Linked DNA regions of Homo sapiens: all the other regions are linked to region 2. Evidence: fine-mapped QTL for protein levels in blood plasma. Region 2 holds a variant in brackets. A gene starts in each other region. All regions are shown on their forward strands.

Region 1 (6,045 bases), not on the chromosome of region 2:
CCTCTGAGCACGTGTGTCCACACCAGGAAGAGACTCCAGAGCTGATCAGAAGTTTTGTGGCTGCTGTGGGACCACTTCTCACCCTCACCCCTGGGAAATGGGCCTCAGCCCTGTGGCCTCATCTCCTCCTCCCCCTGAGTCATGTCACCTGATGGTTATCGGGACACAGCCGGAATGTGCAACTTCCGGCAAAAAACTCTCATGTTTTGTGGTTATTTTGCACCATTTTGTTTCTTCCTTTGGGTTTGTGGACAGGATGGGGTGAGCAGGATGGGCGTGGCAGGGTCTAAGTCCCCTGATCCCTTCTCCTTTGCAGTAAGTCAGGTGTTTCTCTATGTGCCTAAGGAGAATTGCATCCCATAGATTAAAGTGTAAAGCGCACTTCCTGTGGAATCCAATTTTCCTATTACCTTTCATCAAAAGTAGAGATATATTCCCTCAGAAAAAACTGACCTGAGGATGTTAAGGAACACTGACATTTCAGTATTTGTATAATCATAATAATATTTATTCCCACAGAGGAGCTGTCATTATTGACGTTTTACAGAAGCCACAGGCTTTGCTCAAGTTCATTCGGTGGTAAGTGGACAAGCCACGCCAGAACTTAGCCTTCTGCTTCTCTGTCTGGCCTGGACGTTCAAGATTGCAGCAGCGCCTTTTTGGTCATGGTTGAATCAAAAAATAATTTTTGAGAAACTTTGCAATGATCAGGCCACATAAGCCACCGAATATGACACATCTCCTGCATTTTTATGTTCAGCTCAACAGTGTCATGATCCAAAGTGTCTTGGATCTTTTTTTTTTTGAGACGGAGTCTTGCTCTTGTCACCCAGGCTGGGGTGCAATGGCACGATCTTGGCTCACCGCAACCTTTGCCTCTCGAGTTCAAGCGATTCTCCTGCCTCAGCCTCCCGAGTAGCTGGGATTGCAGGTGCCCGCCACATTTTTTTTATTTTTAGTAGAGACAGGGTTTTGCCACGTTGGCCCGGCTGGTCTCGAACTCCTGACCTCGTGATCCGCCTGCCTCGGCCTCCCAAAGTGCTGGGATTACAGGAGTGAGCCACCGCGCCCGGCCCGAAGTGTCTTGGATCTTAATGAGGTTTAGTTAATCTATGACTGCATCATCATGAAAATTTCCACAATGTCCACCAGGCTTTGTCATTGAATCTTCCAGCAGCAGAGCCCATAGGTCTCCTTGGCTTCCTGACACCTTCGTGGGCAAGGCGCCCCTGTGTTCAGAAGGAAGAGGAAAGTGACAAATTCCAAAAAGGGCCAGAGGGAAGGATATTCTTGGGATCCCATAGCTGGCACAGGGCTCCATGTGGGTGGACACTCTGAGCTTGGGGACTGCAAGCTCCCAGGTGACGCATTACACATTAGGAGTGGCATTTCCTGTGCCCACCTGGTCATTCTGTGCAAGCTGGGGCACCTACTCAAGGCACGTGTGTGAGACTGTGTGTGTGTGAGTGTATGTCACTGTGTGTGAATGTGTCAGTGTGTGAGTTTGTGTGTGAATGTGTGAGTGTATTTCAGTTGTATATGTAAGTGCGTTGTGTGAATTTGAGTGTTTCAATGTGTGAATGTGTATGTGTGTTTGTATCAGTGTGTGTGAATTTGTGTTTGTGTGTGAATGTGAGTTTGTGAATGTGTGTGGGTGAGAGTGCCTGTGTGTTTGTGTGTGTGTATATGTGTGTGTGCATGAACGTGTGTTTGTGAATGTGTGCGTATGTGTGTGTTTGTGAATGTGTGTGGGTGTGTGAATGTGTTTGTGTGAGTGTATGTGTGTGGGTGTGTGTGAATGTGTGTGTATGTGAGTGTGTTTGGGTGAGTGTGTGTGTATGTGAGAGTGTGAGTGTGTTTGTGTGTGTTTGTGTGTGGGTGTGTGAATGTTTGTGTGTGTGTGTGTATGTGCATGAACGTGTTTGTGAATGTGTGTATGTGTTTGTGTGTACGTGTGTGTATGTGTTTGTGAAAGTGTTTGTGAATGTGTGTGTGAGTGTGTATATGTGAGTGTATGTGCATGAACGTGTTTGTTTGTGAATGTGTTTGTGTGTATGTGTGAGTGTGAATGTGTGGGTGTGTGTGAATATGTGTGCATGTGAGTGTGTATGTGAGTGTGTGTTTGTGAATGTGTGTGGGTGTGTGAATGTGTGTTTGTGTGTATGCGAGTGTGTTTGTGAATGTGTGGGTGTGTTTGTGTGTTTGTGAATGTGTGTGGCTGAGTGTGTTTGTGTGTGTTTGTGAATGTGTGTGGGTGAGTGTTTGTGTGAGTGTGTATGTGAGTGTGTTTGTGAATGTGTGTGGGTGAGTGTGTTTGTGTGAGTGTGTATGTGAGTGTGTGTTTGTGAATGTGTGTGGGTGAGTGTGAGTGTGTGTATGTGAGTGTGTGTTTGTGAATGTGTGTGGGTGAGTGTGTGTGGGTGTGAGTGTGTATGTGAGTGTGAGCGTGTGTGTGTTTAGAGTCTGCACTCTGTGTGGATCAGGAAAGGGGTCCTTGCAGGCTCGCTGAGTCCCTGCTCTGTGCCCAGCCCCGAGTTGGCTCCAATGGGGCTATATAGAAAGGAAGGCATGGCCGGAGGACCTCTGTGTCAAGTTGAGGACACATTTCCAAGACTAGGAACCATTCAGGGACTCTGGAGTCACGATGACAACTCCCCTTCCCTCAGCCCCGAAGCCCAGGCCTGGACCTCCAAGGGACTCAGGGAAGGGACTCAGGAAAGGGGAGTTCCCCCTGGCAGCCTCCTCGTGGGCACCACCGAGGGTGAGAGGAGCCAGCTCAGCGGGTCCCACCCCCAGGGTTGCCCACCTTGACCACAAGGAAAGGAGGGAGGAGTTATTGGGCCTTCCACTAGGAGGAGACCCGGGGAAGTGAGAGTCGGGGATCAGTCCTGCAAGCTACGGAGTCACTACAGGGAGAGGTCTCATCACTAGAAATAGCCGAAGAACCTGCAGCCTCAACCAGCGTTAAGGAGGACGTGCCGTTTCTAGGGAGTCTTAGTCGGGGCTCACCAGCTTCCTGCATTTTCTGACCGGCTCCAGGAATAGAACCAAAAGAAGCTGAACAAGGAAGCAGCGCGGCACCAAGAAAAGCAGAAGTCGGGGCCTTGGAGGCGTGACTTTCCCCTCGGGTCCAGGTAGGGCCTGGAGCTGCTGCAAGTGCCGCCTGTGCTGGGGAAGGGACCATGTGGCTGCCTTGGGCTCTGTTGCTTCTCTGGGTCCCAGGTGAGAGTTTCCCTTCCCGGGAAAGTCTGCGGCAGGGAGGGAGGGTGCGAGGGGCAGGGCCGCAGGGCAGGTATCACACGAGACGCCCCGAGTCTGGACTCCGTGCAGAACGCAGAATGCGGTGCGCTCTGTCTACCACATAAGATGGACAGATGAAGGTCCACACCCCTGGGAGAGGAAGGAGCCAGGGCCTCTCCCGGCTCTGCACCCACGTACCTTGGCTGAACCACAGCGGGGCAAGTGATAAGGGGTGGGTGCAGAAAAGGGACCTTTTAGGTTTTCAGTTGAATTCTTACAGGAAGGGGGACGAGAGGCAGGATGTGTCAGGGTGGGTGGAGAGTGGCAGCCACTGACTGCGAGGGGCATGTGGTGAGGGTGGGGGAGATGCCGGGCTCACTGGGTGCAGGGTATGGAGGAGGGGGGTGTGGGGAGGGTGGGGGAGATGCCGGCCTCACTAGGTGCAGGGTACGGAGGAGGGGGTGGGGCGGTGAGGGAGATAGGGTCGGGGTGGGGAGCAGATCGATAGTCTCTGGAATGCGGAGATTTAACCAGGGCAGCCCAGCGGCTGGGGCCTGAGCAGGGGGAAGTCCCGAGGCAGCCTTGGCTGGGGTTAGCCCCTGCATGGGCCTGAGAACCAGGGGTCAGTCCTCTCCAAGAAGGGGATATGGGACAGAGGGGACAGAAAAGGTGGTGGGGAGGGCGAGGAGGGAAAAGATCGGGCAGAGAAGCGCTGAGATCTTCTTTAGGGAGAAGCGTGGAGTTGAGTCTTCCCTGTCCAAGCGCAGGGATTCCTCCCGCAGAGTCACCTGCTGTGCCTTCAGTCACGTCCACCGCTCTCCTCAGACAGCTCCTGTGCAGACTCCTCAGGCCTAGTCCTAGGGTATTGTACGTCTTTGTGGTTGCTTTCCTTACAGATCGGAGGTTTTCTGCAATTATATTTGCTAACTACTTGTCTGTGGGAAGGTTATTACTTTTGGTGTCTTGACTTGGAAACGGGTCATCCTCCCATAACAGGTGCTCCTGCGATTCTCTTGGGTGTTCTTCTGTTTCATAGGGTCGGTGTGCATGGGAAGGTTTCAGTTCCTGTCTAATATCTGTTTCTCTTTCTCCCATTGACTCATTGGCTGGTACAGCCGGAGTGAGGCCCAGCGGACATAGTGGTAGTGGTTGTCCCTGCCTTGTTGCTGACTCAGGGAAAAAGGACCAGAGCTTCTCATTATTAGGAAGAAGGGATCCACCAATGACTATTCACAAAGCATTTTTACTTTTATTTATTTATTTATTTATTTATTTATTTATTTATTTTTTGAGATGGAGTTTTGCTCTTGTTGCCCAGGCTGGAGTGCAGTGGCGCGATCTTGGCTCACTGCAACCTACGCCTCCCAGGTTCAAGTGATTCTCCTGCCTCAGCCTCCCGAGTAGCTGAGATTACAGGCATGTACCACCATGCCTGGTTAATTTTGTATTTTTAGTAGAGATGGGCTTTCTCCATGTTGGTCAGGCTGGTCTCAAACTCCCAACCTCAGGTGATCCACTCACCTTGGCCTCCCAAAGTGCTGGGATTGCAGGCGTGAGCCACCAAGCCTGGCCAACATTTTTATTTTTTTGAGACAGGGTCTCCCTCCGTCACCCAAACTGGAGTGCGGTGGTGCAATCACGGTTCACTGTAGCCTCCACCTCCCGGGCTCAAGTGATCCTCCCACCTCAACCTCCCCAGTAGCTGAGACTACAGGTGTGTGCCACCACACCCAGCTGGATTCTTAATTTTTTTTAGGGACAGGGTCTTACCATGTTGCCCAGGCTGGCCTCCACCTCCTGGGATCAAGGGATCCTCCCATCTTGTCCTCCCAAAATGCAGGGATTACAGGCATGAACCACCACACCTGGCCCCTACAAAACATTTTTTATTTTATTTTTATTTATTTTTTTGGAGACAGAATCTCACTCTATCACCCAGGGCTGGAGTGCAGTGGCTTGATCTCAGCTCACTGCAACCTCCGCCTCCCGGGTTCAAGTGATTCTCCTGCCTCAGCCTCTTGAATAACTGGGCTTACAGGCACCCACCACCACTGCTGGCTAATTTTTTTGTATTTTAGTAGAGACGGGGTTTCACCATGTTGCCCAAGGTGGTCTCGAACTCCTGAGCTCAGGCAATCTGCCAGCCTTGGCCTCCGGCCCCCACAAAATACCATTTTTATTATTTATAGAAATTATTATTATTATTATCCTTTCAGCTATGAAGGAGGTGAACTACATTAGGAGATCTGGTCAGATGTTTGTCTTGATTTATTATGCTGGCTTCATGGAAAGAATTAGGGAGATCTCCCTGTTTCCGTGTTCTCTGCAAATGTTTACATAAAATTGAAATTATTTGTTCCTTGAAGTTTTTAGAGAACTAGCTTGTAAAACTGTCTGAGTTTTGCTTCTTTTTTTTTGATGGAAGGGAAAGAATTTCTTAATAACACTCATCATTTTTGGTCTACATTAAAAAAAATCTAGCTGGGTGCAGTGGCTCACACCTGTAATCCCAGAATTTTAGGAGGTTGAGGTGGGAGGATAGCTTAAGCCCAGGAGTCCGAGACTGGCCTGGGCAGTATAGCAAGCAAGACCCCGTCTCTTAAAAAAAAAAAAAGTCTATTCTTGGCCTACATTGATGATTTATATTTTCCTAAAAAATCATCAGTGTCGCCCAGGTTTGCAGACTTATTTGCAGAGATTTGCAAATTTTTCTTTTGAATTTTATATCTGCGTCTTCTTTATTTTTGGTCTGACTACCTACTAGTCTAATTAATTGTTTGAGGCCAGGCACGTTGGCTCACGCCT
Region 2 (6,285 bases):
ACATGTAACCTCACCCACACTTCTACCCAGATTTCAAAATTCCAAGAAATGAAAACTATCTCCTTAAACAAAGAGAACTTTAGGTTTAATAATTCTTCAGATAAAGTATCTCATGCCCGGAGAGCATGAGAAACTAGACTAAGGCACAGATCTAGGAGTAGAAATAAAATGGAGGTCCAAACATGGATCGACTATTATGGAACACCTGATAAAACTCAGAGAGTTACAACAAAAGACACTCACGTGTGTCATTCAAATCCTCACAAGAGTCCTTCAGGATAGTGTCATTATCCTTATTTTACAGATAAGGAAACTGGGGATGAATGAGGGAAAGTATCCTGCCTACGGCCAGCTCATCAATATCAGAACTGGGCTTCCAATGAATATTAGATAAAACTGATATGTTTTGGGAGTTTATCACATGCCTCCCCCTATGCTGAGTCCATTATATGTGTCATCTTATCCAACCTGTACCACAAACCTATGAAGTGGTGAAAATACCTTGCCCAGGGTGAGTTTAGCAGTAACTGGTGGATATGGGATCTGAACACACGACTGGACTCCAAGACATATGGTCAGATGTGCAACTAGATGCCTAGGCATTGGACTCCCATCCCAGTGCACTTTTCCATCTCCCTCACTAGGAAGAGATTCTAGGTGTCATTTCCAATTTTTACATGTTCTTCACTCCACCCAAGAGAGGCCAGAACCATTCCTAAAGCACCAACACATTGAGGCAAAATGTCAGGCAGCAGAGCTGTGGCACCTTTCAAGGATGACAAGCCTTTAACTAAACTCTGGCCTTCAGTAGGGAGAATGTTGAGCTGAAAACAAATCTGGGCAACATTTCAGGTGCTGAGCCTTGTTGCTGACACCACAGAGGCCCAGCAATGCTGCTGAGTTAGTGGTGGCAGACAACTTGCTCCTGGAATCTACAAGGGAACTGGAAATGTTAGGAAGGAAGAAAGGAAGGAAGAGGAAGAGGAGGAGAATTAACATGGCATAGAGAAAAAAATATCACAAGCGTCTGAGCCAGACAAGTCTCAATCCAGTCATGTAAACACAGGCTGTTAATATTTGCTACCATATATTGAACACATTCTAAGTGCCAGGCTAAGTACTTTATGTGACTATTTCATTCAATAAAAGTCACTTGAGCTTATTAGCCCCAGGTTTCTAATGTATAAAATTGATTTAATAACATGTAAGTTACAGGGTTGTTATAAGGATTAGAGCTGCAATGGTCTAATGCTTGGAATTCAGCAGGAGTTAAGTAAATGTTTACATTACTAATTACGAAGCCAATATAAGCAAGGAGGAAGATTCCGGATGGGACAGGCCATCTCGCTATAGGAAAGGAAAGTGGAACAGCATTCATCCTCAACATTTTTACGAAGACAAAATGAAGACTGGAGTAGAAGACTGATCAGTGCAGGTGTAGCATAAAAGTGTAATCCTGGAAGATGTGGTGTGAGAAGGTAGCACAAGTGAAGCAGAGATACAGGAGATAGGGAAGGGAAGCTGGAAGCAGAGGTCACTGGAGGGAGAGGGAGATGGACACATTCAGGGCTACAAAGCAAGTTCTATGTGATTTGCTCACCTCTCAATTGTGGGACCCCTCAAAATGTGTACAGTACTCTCCCAGTGACATGCTTCTTGACCACAATGGATGAACTGTGCCCAGCATGCCCACTTTCCAATGCTCCACTGATCCCCATGTTTTGTTTCTGAAGGACAACCAGCCTTGGAATAATGGCAAATACCTTCTTAAGTTCCTACAAAGTATGGTCCCTGGGAAGTTTATGTCTGTAAGTCAAACCTTGGGAAGTAACTGAGTTTTGATGCCTCTTCCAGCATCATCAGCATCATGCTATTACAATCCCAAACCATGGGGGTTTCTCACAGCTTTACACCAAAGGGCATCACTATCCCTCAAAGAGAGAAACCTGGACACATGTACCAAAACGAAGATTACCTGCAGAACGGGCTGCCAACAGAAACCACCGTTCTTGGGGTAAGTCCACCTCATTATAAGGGGAATACTGAGAAAATACTTTGTAAATGTATCTAGACTACAGATCTACAGTGGGTCTGGGAAACTCTTTCACTCTTTTCTGGCTGACTCCAGGCTAATGAGGACATGAAATGGAGCTTTAAGGGAAGACTCTTAAAGCTCTGCAGCAGTTTCTAGAAACTAAAACCACTAGATCTTTTTCACTAGCATGCTTCACAATTAACAGGTTAGTCTTTCTTATTTTATTTATTTATATATTTATTTATTTTGAGACAGAATCTCCCTCTGTCACCCAGCATGGAGTGCAGTGGCACGATCTCAGCTCACTGCAACCTCCGCCTCCTGGGTTCAAGTGATTCTTCTGCCTCAGCCTCCCGAGTAGCTGGGACTATGGGTGCACGCCACCACGCCCGGCTAATTTTTGTATTCTTAGTAGAGATGGGGTTTCACCATACTGGCCAGGCTGGTCTTGAACTCCTGACCTTGTGATCTGCCCGCCTTGGCCTCCCAAAGTGCTGGGATTACAGGCATGAGCCACTGTGCCCAGCCACAAATTAGTCTTTCTTATTTTGTCATTAGTACAGTAAAAATTTTCTATTTAACCATATGGATTTTACTCAATATGATTAAATTAACTTTGAGCTTATTTTTCAAATATTTTGAGATGAGACGATCAAGACTAATCTCATGACCCATTTTTCCCCGTTCATATGAGTAACTATAAGACATCCAAGTGTCCCAGATCATCATCCCTCATATCCAGAACTTTAATCTCCATGTGGTTTTGAATACCCTCTTATAATACCCAGGTCCTATTCACTGCCTATTTAGATGGATCTCCCTGCCCTGTTTCTTTACAATCTATTCTTAGTACAGCAGGTAGGGTACTCTTTTAAAAATGAAAGTTAGATCATGTATTCTCCTGGCTCAAAATTATCCAGTGGGATTCCTTTTTTGCTCAAAATGAAAAGCAAAGTTGGTAAAACATAGCCTAAAAATCCCTACATAGTTTGTACCATGCCTCCAGTACTTCACAAGCCTCATGTCCTACTACTTTGCTCTTAACTCTATTCTGCCTTGCATGGAACTTGTCTGTACCTTTACAGACAAGACATAGTACACATATAAGCTCTCCAATGGTAGTGATTTTCATTTGCTTCATTCCCTCGTGCCTGGCACACAACATACCTGTTGTGGTATTCAATAACTGTTGATGATGTGAATGGTTGACTTCTTTTTTTATTTCTCCTATGTTTGCATCATCTTTCAATTGCACATGCATTAAACTATGAGCAAAAGCATGGGCTTTAGAGCAAGCTAACAGCTAAACTTCAGTTCTTCCACTTGCGAAATAATTATTATTAAAATCCAATGATGAACAAAATAAGATGAATTACAGCAGAAGAGATGACCTGCTCTATCTAATTTCAACTGAAAAATCTCTTCATTAACACTCCTGTGAAAAGTTTGCTCTCTATTTCCACCTCACTGGACAACTTTTTTATCTACTTTTCAAGAAAATAAATTTAAAAACTGTCAAGTATCTTTTTCAAAAAAAGTTAAAATGTGTGTATGATCACTTTCCGATTTGCTGGTTTAATAATCCTATCAGAAAAGAAGAGGTTAGCTATACATGACTTTCTCTAGAAGCATATCGATTGGCTCCTTGTAACATTTTTCCTCTTTAATATAACAAATTATAATGTATTTTATACTCTTTATACTTTACCGTGTGCATTCAAATAATCACTTTTATCTGTTTGAAGTGCAGTCTAGATTTCCTGTCTTCTCTCTTGTAGACTGTCCAGATCCTGTGTTGCCT[G/A]TTGATTTCAAGTCTGGGGGCCATCTTGGTTTTTGCTCCCTACCCCTCCCACTTCAATCCAGCAATTTCCACCACTTTGATGTCTGGGTACCCATTTTTAGGAGCTCTGTGTGTGAGTAGAATGGGGACTCTAAGAGGGGACATGCTTTATAAATGCTAACCAGGTGCATAGTCGTGGAGTGACTCAGACTCCAAGAGGCCAGGAGGCAAAAGGCGGCAAGGCCTCGACTTTCCTTCTATCATTGCCCCACGTCACATTTCCCCTATTCAAGAAGAGCAGCAGAGAGACTTAATCTGTCTTCCTGCAGAGCAGGGGGCAAGAGGGAATGGTAATACAATGGGTATACCAGCACAGAATTTCTTACCTGGCATTACAGCATACCTCTAGAAAAGTGGATGATTTTCCATATCCCTCTTTGAGGCTTTGATGAGGCCATTGGATTCCCTCCATTGTAAGAATAATCAACTTTTCAGGTAGAGAGTGAGAAGGCCATTTTTAAACAATAAAACGAGCACCACTGGTTGATGCCACAGGTTTGCAGAGATTTGGATTAACAAGGGTAAGATTCATGGGAGGCAGGGACATGCTTGCTGTGTGTCCAGAGGTAACCCTGAGCACTAGAGAAACTCTCTTTGCTGCCTTCCACCTAATGGCTCATGAAAAAGGGCCCAGTAGATCCATTTTTCAGAGAGTGGCCAGGGCAGACTCACACTTCCCACAAAGGGTTATTTCTTCTCCACGTAGTATTTGGTACAAAGGATAAAAATCAAATATTCTGGGCAAATGAACTATACTAAGGTACCACTTCTGTGTGGATACAGTCCCTGTGTGAACACAAACTGTGCAGTCACATAAGGAGGCCCTGGTCCTGCCCCAGAGCACAATTTGTCCTTGACTTCTCCTGTAACCAGTGGTTGTGGGCCCCACATCTCCTTAGAGAAGCTAGCGTTAGCTCATACTGGACCCTCTTTGCCTGTGATTATTCAATATCCAAGCCACACACTTAAGCAACTTTTCAGCTTCTCAGAATACCCTTCCTCTGCCAGCTGGATCTTTAATACCACTGAGATTAAATACTGATTTCTGGGGCTTTATGATAAAGACTTCACGTCTGAGCCTGCTCTTCCCACTTTCCTCGACTCCCATTCTGACTCAAGCAACATACACCAATAACTTCCAGTCCATGTGTTTCTGCACCTTGTCCCATCAGAGCCTCTTTCCTGAGTGCTTCTGTTGGCTGTTCCAATCTCTCTGTCCATTCAAGTCATTGGTCCATCTCAACCTCCTCTCTTTCAACCCTGTAATTTAGTAACACTCTTCTCCTTCCCAGGTACACCTTTTCTCCAGGCCTCCTCAGTTCCTAGTGATTTCCACTAAAACAAATCCAACCCCTCTGTGCATCTGCATGTCATTCAAAGTCAATATAGACATTCTTATATCAGGTGGGAATTAGGCCTATCTAGCAATATAGATCCACAAGATTTCTGCAGTGTTCTCTCCCTAAAAGTTTTCCAACATCACTTTTTGATTGAGTGATTGACAGTGACATGGTGGGCACATTTCCACAAGACAACTGAACTGATCATTTCTCTCTCTTCTGGGCAGTTTGGCATTACTGGATCCCTCTCAATTATCTCTGGAAAACAATCAACTAAGCCCTTTGTAAGTATAAGGACCATCAAATCTCAGCTGGTTGGAATTGAAGGAACGTCAGAGTTAATTCTTCTAGTTTAAAAATCCCTATTTTACAATTTAGAGAGAAAAAGCTTAGAACAGGCTAGGAAGCCCAGGTTTTCCTGGCTGTCCCATTGGTAGAACCAAGAGTAGAGCCCAAATTTCTTGCCTTCTAGACCAGTGCTCTTTCGTCTACACAATGTTGCTCCTGGATTATATTCCAAGCTTGGAGGAGGTTTACCTCAGTTATTTAAAAAGTGTACATTTTTAAATGTACCATGGACTCTTTATAGCTTGTAACCTTGACCTTGAATAAGGTAGCCACCCATCCCAGAGAGAGCCTACAGATCCTTTTTTCTATAAAACCTGCCTCTTGGGGTTCTTTTTGATGCCAAATGTCCCCATTCATAGAGTTGGGACTTCACACAAATTCTAGCCCTTCAGCGTCAGGGTGACCAATTGTTTGGTTTTCCCAGGACTGTCTCAGTTTTAGCCCAGAAAGCCTATATCCTGGGAAACCCCTTACTCCCCAGGCAAAGCAGAATAACTGGTTTACCCTACTCTGTGACCGTGGTAACAAGTTGAAAGAAGTCCATGATATATTTTCAAAGTTCTACTATTTAAGCAACTGAAATAAACTTCTTTCAGTCAAATATCAGGTGGGGAGGCATTCATTCCCCTGTCAGAAGAGGGTGTTGCCGTCTTCATCCAGGCTGGAGGAGACTATTTCCATCCAAAGACTCATGCTTGATAATTGGATGTTTGAGAAAAAAA
Region 3 (5,000 bases), not on the chromosome of region 2:
TATCCATGCATCCATGCATTCATTAATCCATTATCCATTCACCCAACCATCCATCTATCCATCTAGTCACCAATCTATCCATCTATCCATCCACGTATTCATTCATCCATACACCCACCCATCCATCCATTTATCTACCTACCGATATATCCATCCAGCCATCCATCCATCCATCCATCCATCCATCCATCCATCCATACATACATACATGTATTTATTAATTCATCCATCCATTCATTTACCCACCCATCCACCTGTCTATCCATTCATCCACCACCCTTTAGTCCTCAGAGGTTGAGATGCATATTTGGGAGACACTCTCGGGAGGTACCCCTGCAGGAAAGAACAGTAAGACCAACAGTCTGGAGGGCAGAGAGAAGTGGAGGTGTGCCTGGGGTGGCACCAGTGTCTGAAGCCAGCATGGGGAAAGACAGTAGAGGGTGCATGGCAGGGAGAGGCCTGCCAGGGCTGGCCCAGGCAAGCACACTTGGCCCACTAGCAGTCAGGGCAATTATTAATAACATTTCTCCAGGAGGCAGCGACCTCCCTCAGCCACTGGGATCCCCGTGCCCTTTGGGATTGCCACAGTCTGCTAGGTGTGGAACTGGGTGAGAGAAGGAGGGGGATGCCACCATGGATGGGTCAGGAAGACCCCGGCGCCCTCACTCCCACAAGAAGGACCTGTCCTGAGCCCTGCAGGCAGATTGGAAGCCTTGGGGGAGAAGGCGGCACCCCAGGAAACAGCCCCAAGTGTCCAACCTTGAGGGGGGAAAGATGCTTAACACACAAGGCTCTCCATCCTTCCATCTCTCTCTGTGATGACACAGAACCCCCACCCACCCACCCACCCCTGAGAGCCTAAAGCCCATCCTCCTTCCCTTTCCCTGGACTGACCACTCACTGCCACTATCTCCAGGATACCTCGTGGGCTGCCTCTCGCCCCCTCCCTGCTGCTGGTCTCCAGCCATGCCTGGCCCCTGAAGGCGCTGGGACCTTGAGGTGTGGCCAGCACTGCTGTGGGCATTCTACAGGCACTCAGTGCATCTCAAGAGCCATTGAAAAAGTCAGCACCCCGCTGATCCCCAGTGTACAGAGAAGGAAAGTTTATTTATTATTATTATTATTGAGATAGAGTCTTGCTCTGCCACACAGGCTGGAATGCAGTGCTGCAATCTCGGCTCACTGCAACCTCTGCCTCCTGGGTTCAAGCGATCCTCCCACCTCAGCTCCTAAGTAGCTGGGAGTACAGGTGCCCATCATCAAGCCTGGCTAATTTTTGCATTTTTAGTAGAGATGGGGTTTCACCATGTTAGCCAGGCTGGTCTCGAACTCCTGACCTCAAGTGATCCACCCATCTTGGCCTCCCATAGTGCTGGATTTTCAGGAGTGAGTCACCGTGCAGGGCCTGAGATTATTAAAAGTATATGGGAAGGCTGGGCATGGTGGCTCATGCCTGTAATCTGAGCACTTTGGGAGGCCAAGGTGAGTGGATCATTTGAGCCCAGGAGTTCGAGACCAGCCTGGGCAACACAGCGAGACGCTGTCTCTGTAAAAAGTATACACCAAAAAAATTAACCAGGCATGGTAGTGTGCACCTGCAGTCCCAGCTACTCAAGGGGCTAAGGCAGGAGGATCACTTGAGCCCAGGTGGTCAAGGCTGCAATGAGTTATGATTAGGCCACTGCACTCCAGCCTGGGACACAGAGTGAGACCCTACCTCAGTAAATAAATAAATAAATAAATAAATAAATAAATAAATAAATAAATAAGTAAAGTATACGGAAGGATGTGCATAGGTTATATGCAAATACTTTACCATTTTATATCAGGAACTTGAGCATCTTTGGATTTTGGTATCTGCAGAGGGTCCTGGAACCATTGCCCCGTAAATATGGAAATGACTGTATACATTATATTATGTATGTCTATCTATTGTAAACTACATACATAAGATACTATACTATGTATACCTATTAGATACATACTTGCTTTTTATTCCTTCCTTAGTTTTTTTTCTCATTGAACTCCGGGAGGTGGAAAAAATTTAGTGCATTTCACAGAAGAGAAAATCTAGACCAGAGGAAAGATGTCTAAGTTCGATCCCAGAAGCCATGACTGCCCATCTCCCATTTGACAGCAGGAAAGACTGAGGCACAGAGAGATGAAACCAACCCACACAGCAGGCCCACAGCTCTCCACACATACACGTGCCTCCACCCAGCAAGAGGAGCCGCCATGCCAGGGTCAGGGGACTCACCGCCCTGCCTGGACAGCAGGAAGAGGAAGAGGAGGGGGACCACCCAGGTCACCAGCGGCTCCATCGGATCCACGTAGAGCCCCACAGCCCCAGGGGAGCCTCTCTGCCACCTGCGAGGTTCAGCCACCCCGTCCCCACTCCGGAACACATTGAAGCTGAGCAAGGAGAAAAGACTGAAAAAAAAGAAAAAAGAAAAAAAGTAAAGTGTCACAGCCCATCCCTAAGGCAAGTCAAAGTGAAAGAGAAACCCAGGAAGTCAGCTCCGTGGTGGTGGTGATGGTGGCGGCCACAGACTCTGGAGCAAGTCTGACTTTGGAGCAAGTCAGGGTTCTAGGGGGTTCTGCCCTGCTGGCCCCAGACCTGAACTGAACACCCAGATGCCAGCCCCATGGGCCCATGGGCCACCTGTGGTTCCATGCACTTGGCCAGGTCTCTGGCCCTCTCTAGCCAATTTTTTTTTTTTTTTTTGAGATGGAGCCCTGCTCTGTCGCCCGGGCTGGAGTGTGGTGGCATGATCTCCACTCACTGCAACTTCTGCCTCCCGGGTTCAAGCAATTCTCCTGCCTCAGCCTCCCGAGTAGCTGGAATTACAGGCAACTGCCACAACATCGAGCTAATTTTTGTATTTTTAGTAGAGACAGGGTTTCACCATGCTGGCCAGGCTGGTCTCGAACTCCTAACCCTAAGTGATCCACCCACCTCAGCCTCCCAAAGTGCTGGGATGACAGGCGTGAGCTACCGTGCCTGGCTGCCAAATTCTTTTTTTCTTCTTTTGAGATAGGGTCTTGATCTGTGGCCCAGCTGTAGTGCAGTGGTGCAATCACGGCTCACTGCAACATCAACCTCCCCAGGCTCAGGCCATCCTCCTACCTCAGCCTCCCCAGGAACTGGGACTACAGGCATGCACCACCACGCCCAGCTAATTTTTGCATTTTTTTTTTTTTAAGAGAGGGGGTTTTGCCATGTTGCCCAGGCTGGTCTCAAACTCCCGGGTTCAAATGATCCGTCCGCCTTGGCCTACCAAAATTCTGGGATCACAGGCGTGAGCCACCGCACCGGGCCATCTCGCCAGCTTCTGAATCTGAGACTCAAGAGCTGAAGGAGGGCAGTGTTCTTGGATGGCCTAATTTCATCCTTCCAACAAATTGTTACAAAGAGCTTGCAGCATGCTGGCCCTCCACAATGCCCACCTCCCCACATGCCAAGCTCCAGCCTTGTGCACCTGGGCTCACCCCTCTAATCCCAGCACTTTGAGAGGTCGAGGTGGGAGGATCACTTGACCCCAGGAGTTTGGGTCTACCTAAACAACATAGCAAGACCCCATCTCTATAAAAAATAAAGAATTAGGCCAGGCGCGGTGGCTCACGCCTGTAATCCCAGTACTTTGGGAGGCCAAGGCAGGTGGATCACGAGGTCAGGAGTTTGAGACCAGCCTGACCAAAATGGTGAAACCCTGTCTCTACTGAAAATACAAAAATTAACCGGGTGTGGTGGCAGGCACCTGTAATCCCAGCTACTGAGGAGGCTGAGGCAGGAGAATCGCTTGAACCCAGGAGGTGGAGGTTGCAGTGAGCCGAGATCGCGCCACTGCACTCCAGCCTGGGCAACAGAGTGACACTCCATCTCAAAATATATATATATATATAAATTAAAAGTTAGCCAGTCGTGGTGGCACACATCTGTATTCTCAGCTACTCAGGAGGCTGAGGTGGGAGAATGGCTTGAACCCAGGAGGTTGAGGCTGCAGTGAATCGTGATTGTGCCACTGCACTCCAGTCTGGGTAACAGAGCAAGATCCTGTCTCTTAAAAAAAAAAAAAAAAAAATTTAAGAGATGCAACTTAGTCTTTCCCCCATGTTCCATTTCTTAGCCTCTGAGTATTTTGTTTCCTGCCCCTCCCTCCCCACTGTCGGCAAAGCCTCTAAATGTCAGTGGAGAAGCTCTGATCCAAGCTACCATGTGGATGAACCCTCAAAAACATAATGCTGGGCTGGGTGCAGTGGTTCACATCTGTAATTCCAACACTTTGGGAGGCCGAGGTGGGCGGATCACCTGAGGTCAGGAGTTTGAGACCAGCCTGGCCAACAAGGCGAAACCCTGTCTCTACTAAAAATACAAAAATTTGCCAGGCCTGGTGACATGTGCCTGTAATTCCAGCTATTCGGGAGGCTGAGGCAGAGAGAATTACTTGAACCTGGGAGGTAGAGGTTGCAGTGAGCTGAGATCGTGCCACTGCACTCCAGCCTGGGTGACAGAGTGAGACTCCATCTCAAAAAAAAAAAAACACACATACACAAAAAAAAAAACCCATCATGCTGGGTGGACGAAGATGGACAGGAAAGGCACACACTGTATGATTCCACTTATATAAAATATCCAAAATAGGCAAATGTACAGAGGCAGACAGTAGCTGAGTGGTTGTCAGGGGCTGGGGGGAGGCGGGAGTGAGAAGTGACTGCTGATGTATGCGGGGTTTCCTTTTGGGGTGATGCAAATGTTCTGGAACCAGATAGAGGTGGTGGTTGCACAACACTGAATGTGCTAAATGTCACTGAATCGTTTGCTTTAAAATGATGAATTTCCGGCCCGGGCGCGGTGGCTCACTCCTGCAATCCCAGCACTTGGGAGGCCGAGCCAGGTGGATCATTTGAGGTCAGGAGTTCGAGACCAGCCTGGACAACACAGTGAAACCCAGTCTCTACTAAAAATACAAAAATTAGCTGGGCGTGATGGCATGCACCTG
Region 4 (6,237 bases), not on the chromosome of region 2:
GTGTATTTGAAACTACTCATGGAGTTGTTTTAAGGTTTAAAGTTGTGAAAAGAAATTAAATTTTGGGACCCCAAACTCATTCAGTCAAAGGGAAAAGTCAAGCTGGGAACTGGGTCACAGAAACCTGCCTCCTCTTTTTGATTCCTGAATAAGATGGCTACAGGATGAAAGGCTGCATACCTCCCCCATATTTTGCCCACAAGGAAATTCCTGGTCAGCTGTGCAATGCAGATTGATAGCTCATCTTTACCGGTGCGGTCACCCTGGCCAGACACAAATGCGTTATCTGATTGTTTCCCTACCCCATTTTGTCTGTGTTATCTAATGTAAAATGCAGATTCCCCATATTTTTCCTCTGCCCCCCCCCCTTTTTTATGTGAAAACTGAGTGCTTCTCAATATCCCACCTTGTCCCCTTTAAATCTGGAGCCCTCAAAATCATCTTCTGAGAAAGTCATAGACCTGTCTCTCAGGTGCCTCCTTAACTTTGGCAAACAAATCTCCTAAAATGATTGAGACTTGTCTCCTCATTTTCCTCAAATGACAAAGTTAATTCCATTAAAAAAAAACTATATATATTTTATATATGATAAAACATTCATTATATATTTTCTTTTGATTTTTTATGTCCCCTTTGTTTTCATATGACTCAACTACAGTAAAAACATTCAAACACTATCAAAGGTGTATGAAAAAGTGGCCGGGCACACGGTGGGTCACGCCTGTAATCCCAGCACTTTGGGAGGCTGAGATGGGCAGATTACTTGAGGCCATGAGTTTGAGACCAGCCTGACCAACATGGTAAAACCCTGTCTCTACTAAAAATTAAAAACATTAGCTGGGTGTGGTGGTGCACGCCTGTGATCCCAGCTACTCCGGTGCCTAAGGCAGGAGAATCACTTGAACCTGGGAGGCGGAGATTGCAGTGAGCCAAAATGGTGCCACCACTGCACTCCAGCCTGGGCAATAGAGTGAGACTCCATCTCAATTGAAAAAAAGAAAAAGAAAGAAAAGAAAAAGAAAAAAAGGAAAGAAAAGAAAAGAAAAATATGCCTTACTCTCCCAACTCTTTACCATTCCCTGGTTCCTTTTCCTAGAGCTTATACATTAAGAAATGTCCACATATTCCTGCTCCCCGACAATGCACACACACAAATAGAAGCCTAATATATGCATTATTCTGCAACTTTTTTTCTTTAATAACATTATAATTTTGAGACATTCTATACCAGTATGTTTTGTCAGACTCACTGTTTGTATCATGATTATATCACATTTATTTACCCACTCCCTCATCGACGGACATTTAGGTTGCTTCCAAGCTTTTGCTATTACAAACAACATTACAATGGCCATCCTTGTATCTCTCCCTTGTCCTCTGTACAGCACCATTATGTCATTGTAAATATCCATGCCGAGACTTACTTGTAAGTAGTAGCAGCAGCAGCAGCAGGACACAGTCAAAGGGAAGATGTGAAAACATGGAGCTTGCAGAAGAAAAGTCAGAGGACACCTCTGTTAGGCACAGTTTTAACTCTCCAAATGGACTGGGTACTTCTTCCAACTGTCTACTCCACAATCACATGAGCAGTAGCCGCCCCCACTGAGTGCTAGCTCAGCACACCCGGGTGTCTGATTGCCAGTGATTCTTATAGTAACACTGCCAGGTCTACAGTCACATTAAAGGAAACCAAAGTTCTCTGTCATGCCACACTACACACATCCTGTAAGTGTTCTGATGTCTGTCCTGTGATATCAACAAAGAGGAAGCAATACTTCAGTGGAAGAAAACGCTACTCAGTCATGGCACATAAAGAGAACCCTCTAATAATGTCTCAGATGAGATACACCTGAAATGGAGCATGTCCGAGTCCATCTGACTAGCGGGGAACACAAAGTACAGATGCATCATCCATGGATTCATTCACTCAAATCAGTCCCTTCATCAGGCCTGTGACCAAAGTTTATGAAGCCCCTACTTTGCACCAGGCACTGGACTAGGAAGTGGAACACAACAGTGAATGGCATGTTCCTTATCCTCACATTTACAGACCATAGCAACTCCCAGCATAAGCCTCACTCTCATCCTTCTTCTAACACAGATTAGGTTGTATCCTATAACCTTGCTGAGTCTCAGTTTCCTCATTTATATAATTTATAAAATGAGAAAATTGTATTAGATAATACATGCATGGCTCTCTGTTCTAATATTCTGACTTTGACCTTCAAACTTCCAACTCTTCAATTTAGAAAAAACATGTTCCTTTTGGCAACAGTTCCTTTCCTCTACTCTGAGTAGAATTAAGGGGATCTTGGTATCCTGTTTCATCTCATGCATACAAGGTGCCCCCTCTCCCCTACCCCAAGAGGCTTTGGCCATGAATGATCAGAAAGTGTTGAGTTCCAGCCACACTCCCATAACTGAGGTAACAGCTTAGACTCACGTAGCCTCAGCTCTGGGAGTGTGACCTTTATCTGGACACCTTAAAAGCAAAAGCTTTTTTTTATAAAAGGGAAGTGAGCTCACAGGCTGAGTGGTTTCTGAAAAGCCAGTGGCCTTCCTCTATGTCTTGCCTTCCTGAGTTTCTTTGTCATTCACATTTATGCCATTAAATGCATTGGGTATAAATACCAAATTTGTTCAATATAAACAAATGGCATTTAATATAAATATGCAACTTGTTCAATGTGTGTACTTCCCATAGCATTGCAGAGTGGCAGTTACTCAAGAGATCATAATCAATTTCTCATTTTATTTTATTTTATTTTTATTTATTTATTTATTTTTTTGAGATGGAGTTTCGCTCTTTTTGTCCAGGCTGGAGTGCAATGGCATGATCTCGGCTCACTGCAACCTCTGCCTCCCGGGTTCAAGTGATTCTCCTGCCTCAGCCTCCTGAGTAGCTGGGATTACAGGCATGTGCCACCACCCCGGATAATTTTGTATTTTTAGTAGAGACGGGGTTTCTCCATGTTGGTCAGGCTGTTCTTGAACTCCCGACCTCAGGCGATCCACCCGCCTCGGCCTCCCAAAGTGCTGGGTTTACAGGCATAGCCACCGCGCCCGGCCAATTTCTCATTTTATAGACAAGGAATCTGAGACTTCAGAAAATTGATTTGCCGAAAGGCACATGATTGGTGATTTAGAATGAGAGCATAAGCCCCCTAAGTGACAGATTTTTTCCACTATAAATTATGTTTTATTAATTTAATGTTTGTCTTCCCACATAACTAATAACCAGCAAATGACCATATTCAAGCATAAGGTAGAATAGATTAAATATGGGGTCTGGGGTTATTTTTATTAGCAGCATGAACTTGGTCAAGGCTCTTAAAAGCATCAGCCCTCAGTTTCTGTGTTTTGTTTTGTTTTGTTTTTGTTTTTGTTTTGAGACAGAGTCTTGCTCTGTCGCCCAGGCTGGAGTGCAGTGGCGCGATCTCGGCTCACTGCAAACTCCGCCTCCTGTGTTCAAGCAATTCTCCTGTCTCAGCCTCCCAAGTAGCTGGGACTAAGAGCGCACACCACCATGCCCGGCTAATTTTTGTATTTTTAGTAGAGACAGGGTTTCACCATATTGGTCAGGCTGGTCTCGAACTTCTGACCTCAGGTGATCTACCTGCCTCGGCCTCTCAAAATGCTGGGATTACAGGCATGAGCCACCGTGCCCAGCGATGTTTTGTTTTTACCACTTTGTTTTCTGCTCATTTCTAGAATTGCTACTGAGACCAGCTTTATAAAACATTAACAATTTATTAGTTCATTAAAGTCTAGATATGAAGGGGTCTAGAGATCTCCTTTAACTCTCTTGTGTGTGTAGGGAGCTGGTTCTGAACATTTTCATGTTCACTTAACTTTTATTTCCTGTTTATTTTCTTAAAAACTTTAGATAATACATTCAAATAGTTAAAAAGTAAAAGGAATATAAAAAGCTCAAGAAGCCTTGATCCCATGATCCCATCCTTCCATGTTTACCCCCATTTCTCCCACCTATGCTATAGGTTTTCTTTTTTTTTTTTTTTTGACATAGAGTCTCGCCCTGTCACCCAGGCTGGAGTGCAGCGTCACGATCTCAGCTCACTGCAACCTGCGACTCCCAAGTTCAAGCGATTCTCCTGCCTCAGCCTCCTGAGTAGCTGAGATTATAGGCACCTGCCACCGTGCCCAGCTAATTTTTGTATTTTTAGTAGAGATGGGTTTTCACCATGTTGGTCAGGCTGATCTCGAACTCCTGACCTTGCAATCTGCCCACTTCAGCCTCCCAAAGTGCTGGGATTACAGGCTTGAGCCACTGCACCCGACCAGGTTTTCATTTTCATAAGTTTCTTGTGTATACTCCCAATGCAAACCCAAGAAAATAAAATATATATTCTCATACTCTCTTTTCTTAGACAAAATACCATATACCTTTTTTGAAACTTGCATTTTCCTATTGTTATTTGCTGAAATATTTATTTTTAAAATTTTATTTATTTTATTTATTTTATTTTTATTTATTTATTTATTTATTTTTTGAGATGGAGTTTCACTCTTGTCTCTCAGGCTGGAGTGCAATGGTGCTATCTCGGCTTACTGCAACCTCTGCCTCCCCTCAGCCTCCCAAGTAGCTGGGATTATAGGCACCTGTCACCATGCCCGGTTAATTTTTGTATTTTTAGTAGAGACAGGGTTTTACCATGTTGGCCAGGCTGGTCTCAAATTCCTGACCTCAGGTGATCTGCCCGTCCCAGCATTCCAAATTGCTGATTACAGGCAGGAGCCGCCGCACCTGGCCCTTTATTTTTTTTTAAATTTGTTTTAATTTATTTTTAGAGACAAGGGTCTCACTAGGTTACCCAGGCTGGTCTCAAACTCCTGGGCTCAAGGGATCCTCCTGCCTCAGCCTCCCAAAGTGCTGGGATTACAGGTGTGAGCCACCATGCCGAGTCTGCTGAAATATTTTTAAACGAATCCCAGACATCGTGCTATTTCACTTTTACGTACTTTAGTGTGCAATCTTCCTTTTTAAAAAATGGGCATTCTGAAGCCGGGTGTGGTGACTCACGGCTGTAATCCCAGCACTTTGGGAGGCCGAGGCAGGTGGATCACCTGAGGTCAGAAGATCGAGACCAGCCTGGCTAACACGGTGAAAACCCCATCTCTACTAAAAATACAAAAAATTAGCCAGGCATGGTGGTGGGTGCCTGTAATCGCAGCTACTTGGGAGGCTGAGGCAGGAGAATCGCTTGAACCAGGGAGGCAGAGGTTGCAGTGAGCCGAGATTGTGCCACTGCATTCCAGCCTGGACAACAAGCGCAAAATTTCGTCTCAAAACAAACCAACCAACAAACAAAAATGGACATTCTGCTAATATAATCATAATATCATTATCGCACATAACAAATTTAATGATGCCTTAGAAGCACCTAGTACTTCAGTCTATAGCCAAATCTCCCTGATTATCTCAAAAATGTCTTTTTTCAATCAGTTTGTTTAAATCCAGATCCAAACAAGTCCCAGCATTGCATTTGTTTGCTATGTCCCTCAAGTCTCTTTTAATCGAAGACAGTCTGCCCTCCACCCCCTTGCCATTGGTTATACAAACCAGTTATACAAACCAGGTTTTGTCCTGTGAAATGCTCCACATTCAGGGTTTGTCTGTTTCCCTGTGGGGTCATTTACATTATTCCTCTTTTCTTCGAATTTGCTGAAAATGAAAGTTTGCTCTAGAGGTTTAGTTGGAACGTGGTTTGACTTCTTGGCAAAAACACGTCACAGCTGGTGCCTTGTGCTTCACATTTCATCACAATTGTCTGGTTGCTCCACAGCATGCAACCTTCTTTTTTAAATGTATTTAAATTTTTTTTTTTTTTTTTTGAGACGAAGTCTTGCTCCATCACCCAGGTCAGAGCACAATGGTGCAAACTCGGTTCACTGTAAACTCTGCCTCAAGCAGTTCTCCTGCCTCAGCCTCCTGAGTAGCTGGGATTACAAACACGAGCCACCATGCCCAGCAAATTTTTTGTATTTTTAGTAGGGACAAGGTTTCACCATGTTGACCAGGCTGGTCTCGAACTCCTGACCTTAAGTGATCCAACTACCTCGGCCTCCCAAAGTTCTGGGATTACAGGCATGAGCAACCGCGCCCAGCCTAAAATCTTTTGTTTCAGCTCATGTAGAATGTCCTCATTCTTTTTTATTTTTTCGCTCTGTCCCCAGGCTGGAGTGCAATGGCGCGATCTCGGCTCACTGCAAGCTCTG

Alleles and levels. Positions count from the first base shown, and alleles are read on the strand shown. Strength reflects both the effect of a copy and how common the allele is.
As copies of A replace G in region 2, the plasma level of the protein whose gene starts at base 3,113 in region 1 goes up (weak association).
With allele A in place of G in region 2, the plasma level of the protein whose gene starts at base 2,432 in region 3 is higher (strong association).
As copies of G replace A in region 2, the plasma level of the protein whose gene starts at base 1,543 in region 4 goes down (moderate association).

What was found. PIP is the posterior inclusion probability: the model's chance that the variant is causal. Protein levels are from antibody-based Olink assays in UK Biobank. Linkage for the fine-mapping came from a reference panel and not from the study's own genotypes, which makes the PIPs less certain.
Region 1: CD300A starts here. The variant in region 2 is fine-mapped to the plasma level of the CD300A protein (UK Biobank, PIP 0.96).
Region 3: it holds the start of IL12RB1, and the variant in region 2 is fine-mapped to the plasma level of the IL12RB1 protein (UK Biobank, PIP above 0.99).
Region 4: it holds the start of HAVCR2, and the variant in region 2 is fine-mapped to the plasma level of the HAVCR2 protein (UK Biobank, PIP above 0.99).

The regions. Positions count from the first base shown.
Region 1 is chr17:74,463,522-74,469,566 of GRCh38, forward strand. It overlaps CD300A (CD300a molecule), which reads left to right and starts at 3,113. Exons shown (of 7, transcript NM_007261.4): 1 at 3,113-3,222. The coding sequence starts at 3,183. It overlaps LOC124904056 (a long non-coding RNA gene), which reads right to left and starts at 4,253. Exons shown (of 2, transcript XR_007065899.1): 1 at 4,029-4,253; 2 at 487-1,229. RefSeq lists silencers at 3,605-3,664, 3,705-3,764 and an enhancer at 4,125-4,254.
Region 2 is chr11:60,381,275-60,387,559 of GRCh38, forward strand. MS4A7 (membrane spanning 4-domains A7) reads left to right here. Exons shown (of 7, transcript NM_021201.5): 2 at 1,855-2,014; 3 at 3,814-3,948; 4 at 5,443-5,499. The coding sequence starts at 1,868. Among named protein-coding and RNA genes, the nearest start is that of MS4A7, 5.9 kb to the left of the region's middle. The variant G/A (reference allele first, on the strand shown) is at 3,837.
Region 3 is chr19:18,084,503-18,089,502 of GRCh38, forward strand. It overlaps IL12RB1 (interleukin 12 receptor subunit beta 1), which reads right to left and starts at 2,432. Exons shown (of 17, transcript NM_005535.3): 1 at 2,258-2,432. The coding sequence starts at 2,321. RefSeq lists enhancers at 2,344-2,693, 2,704-2,763.
Region 4 is chr5:157,107,502-157,113,738 of GRCh38, forward strand. HAVCR2 (hepatitis A virus cellular receptor 2) reads right to left here and starts at 1,543. Exons shown (of 7, transcript NM_032782.5): 1 at 1,425-1,543. The coding sequence starts at 1,482. RefSeq lists an enhancer at 1,330-1,479.